Homo sapiens: one gene and its partners. The protein of the gene in region 2 purifies or fractionates together with the protein of the main gene of each other region. This does not show direct contact. Each region holds a gene or a part of one and is shown on either strand. Other genes may lie near its edges.

What was found.
Region 1: the proteins of UCN3 (region 2) and ZNG1B purify together in Homo sapiens (affinity purification with mass spectrometry; one large-scale study listed by BioGRID and IntAct). This does not show direct contact.
Region 3: the proteins of UCN3 (region 2) and FREM2 purify together in Homo sapiens (affinity purification with mass spectrometry; one large-scale study listed by BioGRID and IntAct). This does not show direct contact.

The regions. Positions count from the first base shown.
Region 1 is NC_000002.12:113,444,133-113,447,787, forward strand, and holds part of ZNG1B (zinc-regulated GTPase metalloprotein activator 1B), read left to right. Parts: intron 1-831; coding exon 832-923; intron 924-3,655. UniProt on the Homo sapiens protein: Zinc chaperone that directly transfers zinc cofactor to target metalloproteins, thereby activating them.
Region 2 is NC_000010.11:5,363,316-5,367,070, reverse strand, and holds the start of UCN3 (urocortin-3 preproprotein), read right to left. Parts: upstream 2,106-3,755; 5' UTR 1,841-2,105; intron 1-1,840. UniProt on the Homo sapiens protein: Suppresses food intake, delays gastric emptying and decreases heat-induced edema. Might represent an endogenous ligand for maintaining homeostasis after stress.
Region 3 is NC_000013.11:38,875,519-38,879,173, forward strand, and holds part of FREM2 (FRAS1-related extracellular matrix protein 2 precursor), read left to right. Parts: intron 1-503; coding exon 504-631; intron 632-729; coding exon 730-864; intron 865-1,598; coding exon 1,599-1,725; intron 1,726-2,615; coding exon 2,616-2,803; intron 2,804-3,312; coding exon 3,313-3,459; intron 3,460-3,655. UniProt on the Homo sapiens protein: Extracellular matrix protein required for maintenance of the integrity of the skin epithelium and for maintenance of renal epithelia. Required for epidermal adhesion. Involved in the development of eyelids and the anterior segment of the eyeballs.

The DNA of each region.
Region 1 (3,655 bases), on a different chromosome or scaffold from region 2:
ATGTAAAAAATGATTATTCTGAATTTAATCTGTCATTGGTCATATTTCTAAGTGTTCAACCTTATAAAAAAAATAAATGACTATCAAAAAAGAGAAAAACCTTACATTATGTTCTACTAGTTAAGTTTTCAAGGACAGTGTTCACTAGTCTACCATAGACCCTAGAAGAGTTACCCAACACATAGTAGCACTCAAATATTTGTTGAATGAATTATAAAAATGACTACTTGTACTGTTAATTTTGTGTATTCTAGTGAATTAAATCTCTTCGGCATCATTTACTCCCTTAGGTATTTGACTTTGTGTCAAATGTTTTGGCAAGGATAAAATTATAACAGACTTTCTTGAACAACCAAAATATAATCTATTAAGGATTTTCCTTCACTTTTGATAAAATAAGAAAAAAGGAAATTAAAACCTTGCATCCTAATGTAAAATAGAATTATATGGTGTTTAATATCAGTGTCCCTTTAGCTATTATATTAAACTACTATAGTTAATAAATTTTATCATTATTTTGTATGTTGGTTTTTAAAAATTTCATAAAGCTATAAAAAGATACTTGGTCAGATAAAGTTTCCTCTGCTTTTAATTTTAATAAAGTATTATTATGTATATGATTTCTTTTTACCTATTATATATATGCATCTATTGTTTTCTCACTGGTAAATATGGGACGGACATTTTGTTAGAAGGTTAGAAGTGAGTTAAATTTTCACATTCCTAAGGGTACTTTTGTCTTGGGTTGTTGAATATATTTTAAAGTGTTTATAATAATCACTTCAAAATATTTAGGTAATTAACTGTAAATGATGTTTTGGTATTCTCCAGGGACAATGGCCTTAGAGCTATTGAGAATTTGATGCAAAAGAAGGGGAAATTTGATTACATACTGTTAGAGACCACTGGATTGGCAGACCCAGGTAAGAAGTGAGGTTGTTAATAACCAGAATATAGTTCTGTGATATACTGTAAATAGATGTATTAGAGGAATATCTAACATGAGGATTAAAGCTTTTGTTAGTATTAAACCAAAAACTTTTTTTGGTTTAAAAGAGGAAAAGTACTCGGTTGTCATTTTCTTTGGCAGTTGAATGAATGAACGGAGTATTTCTTGGTACTTTTAAGCTGTTAATAGAATTTGAAGTTTTATTGATTGACTTAGGATTATTTGTAAGAACAGAAGTTGTTAAAAATAAGGACATGTAGGAAGAGCAGAGACGTTCTACCTCTAAGTACAGTTGTCCCTTGGCATCCATGGGGTATTAGTTCCGGAACCTCTGAGGATACCAAAATCTATTAATGTTCAAGTCCCTTACATAAAATGGTGTAGTATTTGCCTATAACCTATGCACATCCTCCCATATACTTTAAATCATCTGTAGATTACTTATAATACCTAATACAATGTAAGTGCTGTGTAAGTAGTTATTACACTGCATTGATAAGGGAATCATGACAGGGAACTCTGAACTCTACTATGGAAAGCTACACAGAGTCAACCTGTTTCTAACAATGGGTTTCTGTTACCTTCTTACCAAGCTCTAATTCTTGATAAAGTCTGCTTATTTTCCCCAAATAACTTTTAGATAAAATCTTTATTTTCAGTTTGCATAAAAGTTAGTGCTTATTCTGTGAATCTGTGAATCTGACCCATACCATTATTTTTTTTTTTTTTTTTGATCTGGGTCTCTGGCATTGGGGCGATTTGTAAAACTATATTAAAGTATTTGGGGGTAATTTACTAAACAGGTCATAGTTGTCCAAAAGAAATATTGAAGTATCCTGAGAGTTCAAATGTGATCCGTGGTTATTGTAATTAAAACAATTACATAATAACATCATCCCCATGTTTTCAAAGTAGTATTGAATTAGGCTATTTTGGTCCTTATAGTAGGCATGGGTTTTCATACCTTTCTGATAAATCTGACTGATGATAGGACTTGGACTAATATGTTGGTGTTAAATATTTGAATCTGGTAAGAAAGAAAAATATATTGTATGCTTTTATTAGAAATAGCAAATATCAGTTTATTTCATCATAGCCAGTTTTGCCATTTTATAGACAAAAACTTGATACTTTTGAGAGTTTAATTAAACACGATTCAGCTTTTCAGAGGAAGAAAGAAAAACTAAAGATCACAGAGAAAGCTTTTATACAAATTGTAGTTATAAAAAATCTTAATGTTTCTTGCTTCTAACTTTCTTTACAATAAAGATTTTATTGTTTGGGTAAAGATGGAACATTCATTGTAAAAAAATTTAAATACCTAAAAAATACAAAGAAGAAAGTTGAAAAGTAATCATCTCACTATTGTGATATACAAGTAGGGGCTGGGCATGGTGGCTCATGCCTGTAATCCCAGCACTTTGGAAGGCTGAGGCAGGTGGATCCCTTGAGGCCAGGAGTTCAAGACCAGCCTAGCCAACATGGTGAAATCCAGTCTCTACTGAAAATTCAAAAACTAGCCAGGCGTTGTGGCGCACCCCATAATCCCAGCTACTCAGGAGGCTAAGGCATGAGAATCACTTCAAAGCTGGGAGGCGGAGGTTGCGGTGAGCCGAGATCACGCCACTGCACTCCAGCCCAGGCAACAGAGCAAGACTGTATACACACACACACACACGCACATGCACACGCACACACACACACACACACATTCATACACACACACACATTCATACACACACACACAAGTAGGTAAATTTTATTCCAGGGATCTCTCTATGCCAGTGCTACTTGGTAGTATGTTGAATGGCAGCCTCAGCCTCATCTGGGAGCTTGTTAGAAAGGCAAATTCTTGACCAACCCAGATCTACTGAATCGGAATCTCTAAGGGAGGGGGTCAAGCAAGCTGTTTTTAATAAGCCCTTCAGGTGATTCTTATACTGTACAGCCATACCGCAGGGATATTGTGGGCTTAGTTCCATATCACTGCAGTAAACTGAATATCACAATAGAGTGAGTCACACACATTTTTTTGTTTCCCATTGCATATAAAAGTTATGCGTTTTGGCCGGGTGTGATGTCACAGGCCTGTAGTCCCAGCTACTTGGGAGGATCACTTGAGCTCAGGAGTTTGAGGCTGCAGTGAGTCATGATTGCACCACTGCACTCCAGCCTGGATGACAGCATGAGACCCCATTTCTTAAAAAAAAAAAAAAAAGCTGTGTTTATACTATACTGTAGTCTATAAAATGTGTAATAGAATTGTCTAAAAAACATACATACCTTAATTAAAAATATTTATTGCTAAAAAATGCTAACAATCATCTCAGCTTTCAGCAAGTCATAATCTTTTTGCTGGTAGAGGGTCTTGCCACAATGTTGATGGGTGCTGACCAATCAGGGTAGTAGTTACTGAAGGTTGGGGTGGCTATCGCAATTTCATAAGATAATAATGAAGTTTGCTGCATTAGTTGACTCTCCCTTTCATAAAAGATGTCTCTATAGCACATGATGCTATTTGATAGCATTTTACCCACAGTATGACTTCTTTCAAAATTGGAGTCAGTCCTCTCAAACCCTGCTTTATCAATTAAGCTTCTGTCATATTTTAAATCCTTTGTTGTCATTTTGACAGTGTTCATAGCATCTTCACCAGGAGTAGATTCCATCTCAAGAAACCACGTTCTTTTCCCGTCCATAAGAAAC
Region 2 (3,755 bases):
TTTTTCACATTTTTGGGGTCAATTTGTAAATACTGTGCCTTTTAAAAAATGCATTACCTTCTTATTTTTCAAATCCCAAGTCTACCATCAGAGAAGAATACTGTAATCACGGCTAGGGTGCTGAAGGTGTGGAAAAATCTGTGAAAGTGTCAGGGAGCAAGTGTCCTGCGTGGCGCTCTGTTCTTGGTGCATCTGCAGGTAGCAGACCTTTCTCTCTCTGCAAACCCTCAGCTCTAGCCTGCACACGGTTGTGAGGGTATTGAAAGGTGTCCCCTTACCATCAGCAATGATGCAAAGTTACACAGCAAAGGAACCTCCCAGAACTGTGAATTGGACATGATAGGGACGCCCGGTGCTGAGCTTAGTTTTAGATCGTTTAAAATGTAAGGGTTCTTTGCAACCCTGGATGGTTTCACCATCAAAGTGTGTGAGTGGCTGGGGGCTGGAAGGTAGATTCAGATTTCTTTCCAGGACTTTTCTTTTTAGGATCTGTTTAGATTTGTTTAGGGTTTATAGGATAAAAGAAAAGGAACTCTCCCCAAAGAAGAAAAGATACTCTGTACTTCCCACATAAAGTCTAATTTTGCAAGTTTCTCCTTTTACATTCCTTGGACTCTTCTGCCATATTCTTGGTGAAACAGCACAAAAGTTTAAGATTTCTCTGCAGTCTGCCACGAAAATAACTGGGCACCATCTAGTTATTAATACATTTGAGGGGCAAAGCTCTACACCTGTATTTTTCTCTGGGTGCCTGAAACTCAACCATTCCTTTGGGCTATGGTGACAGTAGCACTTGTCGAGGATGCTGTAAAGAGACACAGTTACTTCTGGGAGCTGTGGCAGAGCCAAGCACTGAAACGTGAGGGACCTGGGTCAGCCTCCAATTCCCAGCACCTCACAGGGAGAGGACAGGACATGAAGCAGCAAAGGCAGGAGGCAAACAGTACTGATCACACATCTCTGCCAAGTGCAGAGCTATTCCTGTGGGCTCCGTTTGTCTGCAAACACTGATAAGAAGTTAAACTGAAACTAGACCACTTAAAACGTTTTAAAAATCTCACATTTGTTATTTTTGGTAGGTGGCTATGCTTGGGAAAGAAATTGCGAACAGGAATTTTCAGAAAACATAAACATCAAACATCCATCTCCCCTTCACAGGTAGGAGTTAGCCATTGTAGGTATCTGCACACACCCCCGCAATGTTCCTAGTGTGGCAAAGGGCTCTGGGCTTTGGTGGCAGAGGACCTGGCTGGGGAAACTCCCTTGCCTCTGACTTTTCTTGGGTGAATCCCTTAACCTGCATTTCACTTGCCGCGTCCTAGGAAGGAGACGTTACCTGCTTCACAGGTGTGCCCGAGAGTGACGGGAGATGGCACAGGTGAAGGTTTGTGGCACAGGTAAACAGTAAGTGCAGGTGTCCTCGCTGCTTTGCAGGCGGCGTGGAGTCATGTCCTGTGGCTCCCATTAGCCCCGGCATCCCTACCCCATCCCCATTTGTAAACTGTCTCCGAGGACTGACTTTCCTGTGCACAGCTGTGCTCTGTTCAGAGAAAACAGATTTGTGTGAACACCTTCTGCCTCTGATCTAACACCTTTGGAAAGAGGGTCTCTCTATACCAACGTGGGAATGTGATTGTGCCTCCCTGAGAAACTTCCCCTGGTCCCTTTGGGGCTGATTTCTGCTGATTGGGTGGGGGGCGTTCAGCATCGCTCCCTTGGGCTTCCACCCAGGGGCGCTAGCAGCTCTCATCTCTCACACCTGTCTAGTGCATGGCACCTCCTGCTTAAATTAGGGCAGATACATTTACCCTTCATAAGTCAGTCCCAGCCACAAGCTTACCCGAGAGTGGACTTCCCTCCGCAGCGAAACGCTCAGGGAGGCCGGCGCAGCTTCAGGGCCAGGAGGGCGGCCCCGTGCACGTCCCCATGAACTTGTGGCTGCTCCGGGGTCTCGGCTCCTGCTTCTCCGGTATTGTTCCTAAGTGGGCTGTGATATTCCCTCTCTATGGAAACGGTCCCCTCCCCTGTGTGTATATAAAAGTGACAGATCACAGGGTGGATCGTAATTCCAGACGTGGTGTCTACGCTGGGATGAGATTTCATTTAAAATACAACCAGAACCAGCCGTCCACGTCATGCAGACGACAGGTGCTCCAACCTCGACCCCTCCCACCTCTGCTTCCCACCCCGCCCTTCTACCCCCCAACTCCTTTTGCATCCTAGCAACTTGCTTCATTGATAAAAGCAAAGAACAAAAAAGAAAAAGAAGAAATAAAAACTCAAAACAAAACAAAACAAAAATCCTGGTAAAGTGAGAAGCAGTGTCTTTGAAGAATTTTATTGCTGATCTTAGTTCTAACTAATTTCAGTTTCCCCCACATTCCCCTTGCCCTAACTCTCCTTCTGTAAATGTAGAGCCTGGACCTGCTTTGAAAGCAGAGAAGGGGTTTAAAATCCACCTGTTGCCGTGTTGTTTTGTGGGTTCTGACCGTGCAGCGTCATCTGGCCGCACACGTAGCCCCTTGTGCTTGTCACACACTCGGTGCCTACTCCCCACATAAAGTCTAATTATGCAAGTTTCTCCTTTCACATTCCTTGGGCTCTTCTGCCGTACCCTCAGTGAAACAACACGAAAGTTTAAGATTTCTCTGCAGCCTGCCGCGAAAATGACTGAGCACCATCTATTTGTTAATACGTTTGAGGGGAAAGCTCTACACCTGCATTTTTCTCTGGATACCTGAAACTCAACCATTCCTTTGGGCTATGACAGCAGGTCATCATACACCAGAGGTCTGGAGGTTTTAGTGGGAAATGGCTTGGATTTTACTCGTTTATGCATCCTATATTTATTGAGGACTTACTGTGTACCAGGTATTGCCAAGACACCCACGAGTTCAGAGATAAGTAAGTTGTGGCCCCTAACCATACAGGGCCTCATGGTTTAGAAAGGTAGGGAAGGCTGGGTGCGGTGGCTTATGCCAGTAATCCCAGCACTGTGGGAGGCCGAGGCGGGCAGATCACGAGGTCAGGAGTTCAAGACTAGCCTGGCCAACATGGTGAAACCCCGGCTCTACTAAGAATACAAAAAAAATTAGCCGGGCATGGTGGCGAGTGCCTGTAATTCCAACTACTCAGGAGGCCAAGGCAAGAGAATCACTTGAACCTGGGAGGTGGGGGTTGCAGTGAGCTGAGATGGCGCCATTGCACTCCAGCCTGGGCAACAGAGTGAGACTCCATCTCAAAAGAAAGAAAGAAAGAAAGGTAGGTAAAAAATGCTACAGAAGAGAGCAGTCCTGTCTACTCAAGACAGGAGAGGAGAGCAGGAGGGGTTTCAGACAGAAAGGATGGATCAGCATGGACTGAGCCAGGGCTGAGAGGAACGGGAGAGAAGGAGGACGATGGGAGGGAGGTGTTGGTGGGTGCAGAGGCTGCTCTGCACTAAGGTGCTCCAAAGGCCTGCGGAGTTGGGAGTTTATTCCATATGTAATGGGGAGATGTGGGAGACTACGGTCTGTTGACCCCTTATTCACAGATGAGGAAGCTGAGGCTGTAAAAAGTGACCTGCTGGGACCCCACAGGCCCAGGGTGACAGAGTCAGGTGAGAACCAGGCCTGACGCTGGGCTCAGTGCTCCTTTCACTGGGCTGAGCTGATGACAAGGGGCCCTGCAAGACCGGCTGGCTGTCCCTAGCCCTCCTCCCAGACGGCTGCTCCACTCTCGTGAATTCCTGCAGGTGAAGAGGTAAGAGGTCTTCT
Region 3 (3,655 bases), on a different chromosome or scaffold from region 2:
CCTTTCTAATAAACTGAATCTTTGTGTAGCCATGATTGCAGGCAATCTAACTAAAATCAGACTCCATTCATAAATTGGGTTTGCCCAGCTGTGTGGATACTAATAGACTATTTTAAGTTCAGCTCGTAACTTCAGTGCACAATAAATGCATTCACATCACCCTTTATTGTGCTGCTGTGACTCCCCAGAAAGTAGCTCTGAACAATTTGAGCATTTCTGTACAATTATCTTTTGACAAAACTATAGAGCAGAAACAGTACTGAAGTAGGAATCAGAAAGTCACATCCTAGCTGTGTGATCTTTGGAAAGTCACACAGTCACTCACAGCCCAGTTTCTTCATCTGCCAGAGGAGGATAATTATACTAACCATGACTGCTTTGCAGCCTTCTTATAAAAACAGAAGCAAATAATGTATGATCATTTATTTTGAAAACTCTAAACTGTTATGCACTCTTTTAATTGAACCACTATATCATTATTATAATTACTGGCACTTTCCTAGCATCCTTTACAAGCTCAGTGATCATGTCAGCTGATCATCCAGGCCTGACATTTTCCCTCCGCCTCATAAGGAGTGAACCAACCTATAACCAGCCAGTACAGCAGTGGAGCTTTGTCTCTGACTTTGCCGTAAGTGACTAAGACTCTTAATTAATTTTCTTCTGCTGCTGCCATCTGATTACACCTCAGATTTTTAAATGTAATATATCAATATCTTCTCCTCAAAGGTACGTGACTACTCAGGGACCTATACTGTGAAGCTGGTGCCATGCACTGCCCCATCACATCAGGAATACCGCCTGCCAGTCACCTGCAACCCCAGAGAACCTGTCACCTTTGACCTTGACATCCGATTCCAACAGGTGTGGCTTATAGAATTACTATCTTATGACTTGCAGAATCCCACTTTGTTTTTCATTTATTAGTAAAAAAAAAAAAAATCCACACGTGAATGACTTTAATTCTTGCATGCTGAAAAGAAAAGAAATCAGACAGTTAAGGAAGCTAGGGATAAAAGAATGAGGAGAGATTTGCCCTTTATCTGTTGTTAGTACAGGATGTAAAATTCAGAGTTTAAATGTATGCAATGGTTATTTTTTTCTTATCTGATCTTATCTTGTGTCCTCCTGAAGTTTGCTGTCTTGGAGATTTGAGAATTTTCCCCGCACTTCTGCATTTCTTTTCTTGTTCTTCTCTAAAGAGAATGAAATCCTGTAGCTCAAACCACCTCAAAGTACCTAATTGCCATTATGTATTATAAAAAATGTGATGGCATCTTTTTTTCAAGAATTTTTACTGTTGGCCTTCTACTGACAATGATATTTACAAGTCCTTTATATACCCCAATAAACCAGTGGAAATGAGCTCAAGCAATGCTGTTTAGTCCCATTCAAAAAATGACTTGATCCCACCAGTTTTGCCTTCTCAAGGACAAAAGCAATGTTACAACTCTCTGAGTTAGCTTGGTAGGGTGTGAAAATTGCGATGCAGTGTTTAGTGTTCTACAGTGTACGGTGAATGTATGTATCTGTGAACAGTATGTTTGTGCACCATCAGAACCACTGATGCATAAAAGAACTTTTACCTTTGGTTTTAGGTCAGTGATCCAGTGGCTGCTGAGTTTAGCTTGAACACCCAAATGTACCTGCTCTCTAAGAAGAGTCTCTGGTTGTCTGATGGATCCATGGGATTCGGGCAAGAGAGTGATGTTGCTTTTGCAGAAGGTATCACTTTACAAATGAGAGGGATGCTCTGTTTGTCATGTATATCTTTTGTGCTTTGCTTTTTGGGGATTGTGTTTGAGGGGGCAAATTATAGCTTTTTTTATGGTTTTGAGAATGTAACTGGGTCTTTACCCACTCTGGCTGGTGTGGGAAGTCGTTGCGATTGGGTATATGTAACTGGGTATCTTTTTTTTCTGAGGAAGCTAATCTCTAGCTGTCTTACCTAAGTGACTTTTGGAACAAGTCTAGATGATTTTCTCGAATGTTTTTTTTCAATCTGTGTAAACTTAAATGCTGCAGCTACATGAGACTGTAAATGCCTCTCAGGCAAAGATTGTGCCTGCCTTACTCAATGGTGTATATTCAGCACCCAGCACACATACCTAGCAGAAATACCTGGCACTCATGGTAGGGGTTCAATAATAGTTATGAAATAAAGAATTGAACACCAGGGGGTTTCATTAAACCCTCTTTCAGAAACAAATAACGTTAATTAGGCTTTGTATTGATACTTTCTTTCTTAGTGTTATTCTATATTGTATCAGTATATATCTTATCAACTTATTTTTGTAAACTGGACTTGGACCACAATGGGATATTATTAATGCCAAATTATAGGCCAGATCTTTGAAATTATTCACACTAGTGGCTGAGCATCTGAGACTCAATAAATCTTTAGTCACTTCTGGTCAGTCTGCAAAGTGGTCTTACCTGAGGCCTGAGAATGTACCAGATCTTGAAGCTCATGCAAACAGGCCTTCAACATTTGATAGTAGATGAGGGTGGCAAGGAAATAATCTCTGTGTCCTCATTGTCATAACCTGTTTACAGTGTCACGTTGATATACCTTATCATATAACAGAAATAACATTTCCACATCTCTATTTCAGGTGATATAATTTATGGTCGTGTCATGGTGGATCCTGTCCAGAATCTGGGTGACTCCTTTTACTGCAGCATTGAGAAGGTGTTTCTATGCACTGGAGCTGATGGCTATGTTCCCAAGTATAGTCCAATGAATGCAGAATATGGCTGCTTAGCCGACTCTCCTTCACTCTTATATAGATTTAAAATTGTGGTAAGTGCTTTGACCCAAAAAATGAGCTAGATAGATTTTTCAAAGTTCAGCCTCCTTGTCTTATATTTAAAAACAAGGCTGGGCACAGTGGCCACACTATAGTCCCAGCACTTTGGGAGGCCAAGGTAGAAGGATCACTTGAAGCCAGGATTTCAAGACCAGCCTGGGCAACATAGTGAGACCCCATCTCTACAAAAAATTTTAAAAAATTAGCCGAGCATCGTGGCACATGCCTGGAGTCCCAGCTACTTGGGAGGCTGAGGTGGGAAGATTGCTTAAGTCAGGAAGTTCAATCTATGATCATGCTACTGCACTCTAGCCTGGGTGACAGAGAAGGTCCCCGTCTCTTAAAAAAAATAGAAAAACCAACAAAATGATCATTTTTAGTAAACCAAATGGTGACATTTTATAGTAATTTGTACTTGCACAAAACAAATAGAGAAACATGCTGTCCTGGCAAAAGCCGTGGCATTATCTACAGCAATCACCACTTTCCTTACTGCTTAAAGGACAAAGCTCAGCCAGAGACACAAGCGACCAGTTTTGGAAATGTCCTATTTAATGCCAAACTAGCAGTGGATGACCCTGAAGCCATTCTCTTAGTGAATCAGCCTGGATCTGATGGATTTAAAGTCGACTCAACACCACTCTTTCAGGTAGGCCAAAAACAAGCTCATTTGTAGTAGTTGTGTACCCACATGCAAGTTATGGAACATTTATATGCCTCAGATGTCTCATATGTAAATAGCAGTAATAGTAATATTGCATACAGTTAATGGGAACATTGAATAAGATATGGCAAATAAACTACATAACCCTATGCTGGGCATATGGTGAGCACTCCATAAACCC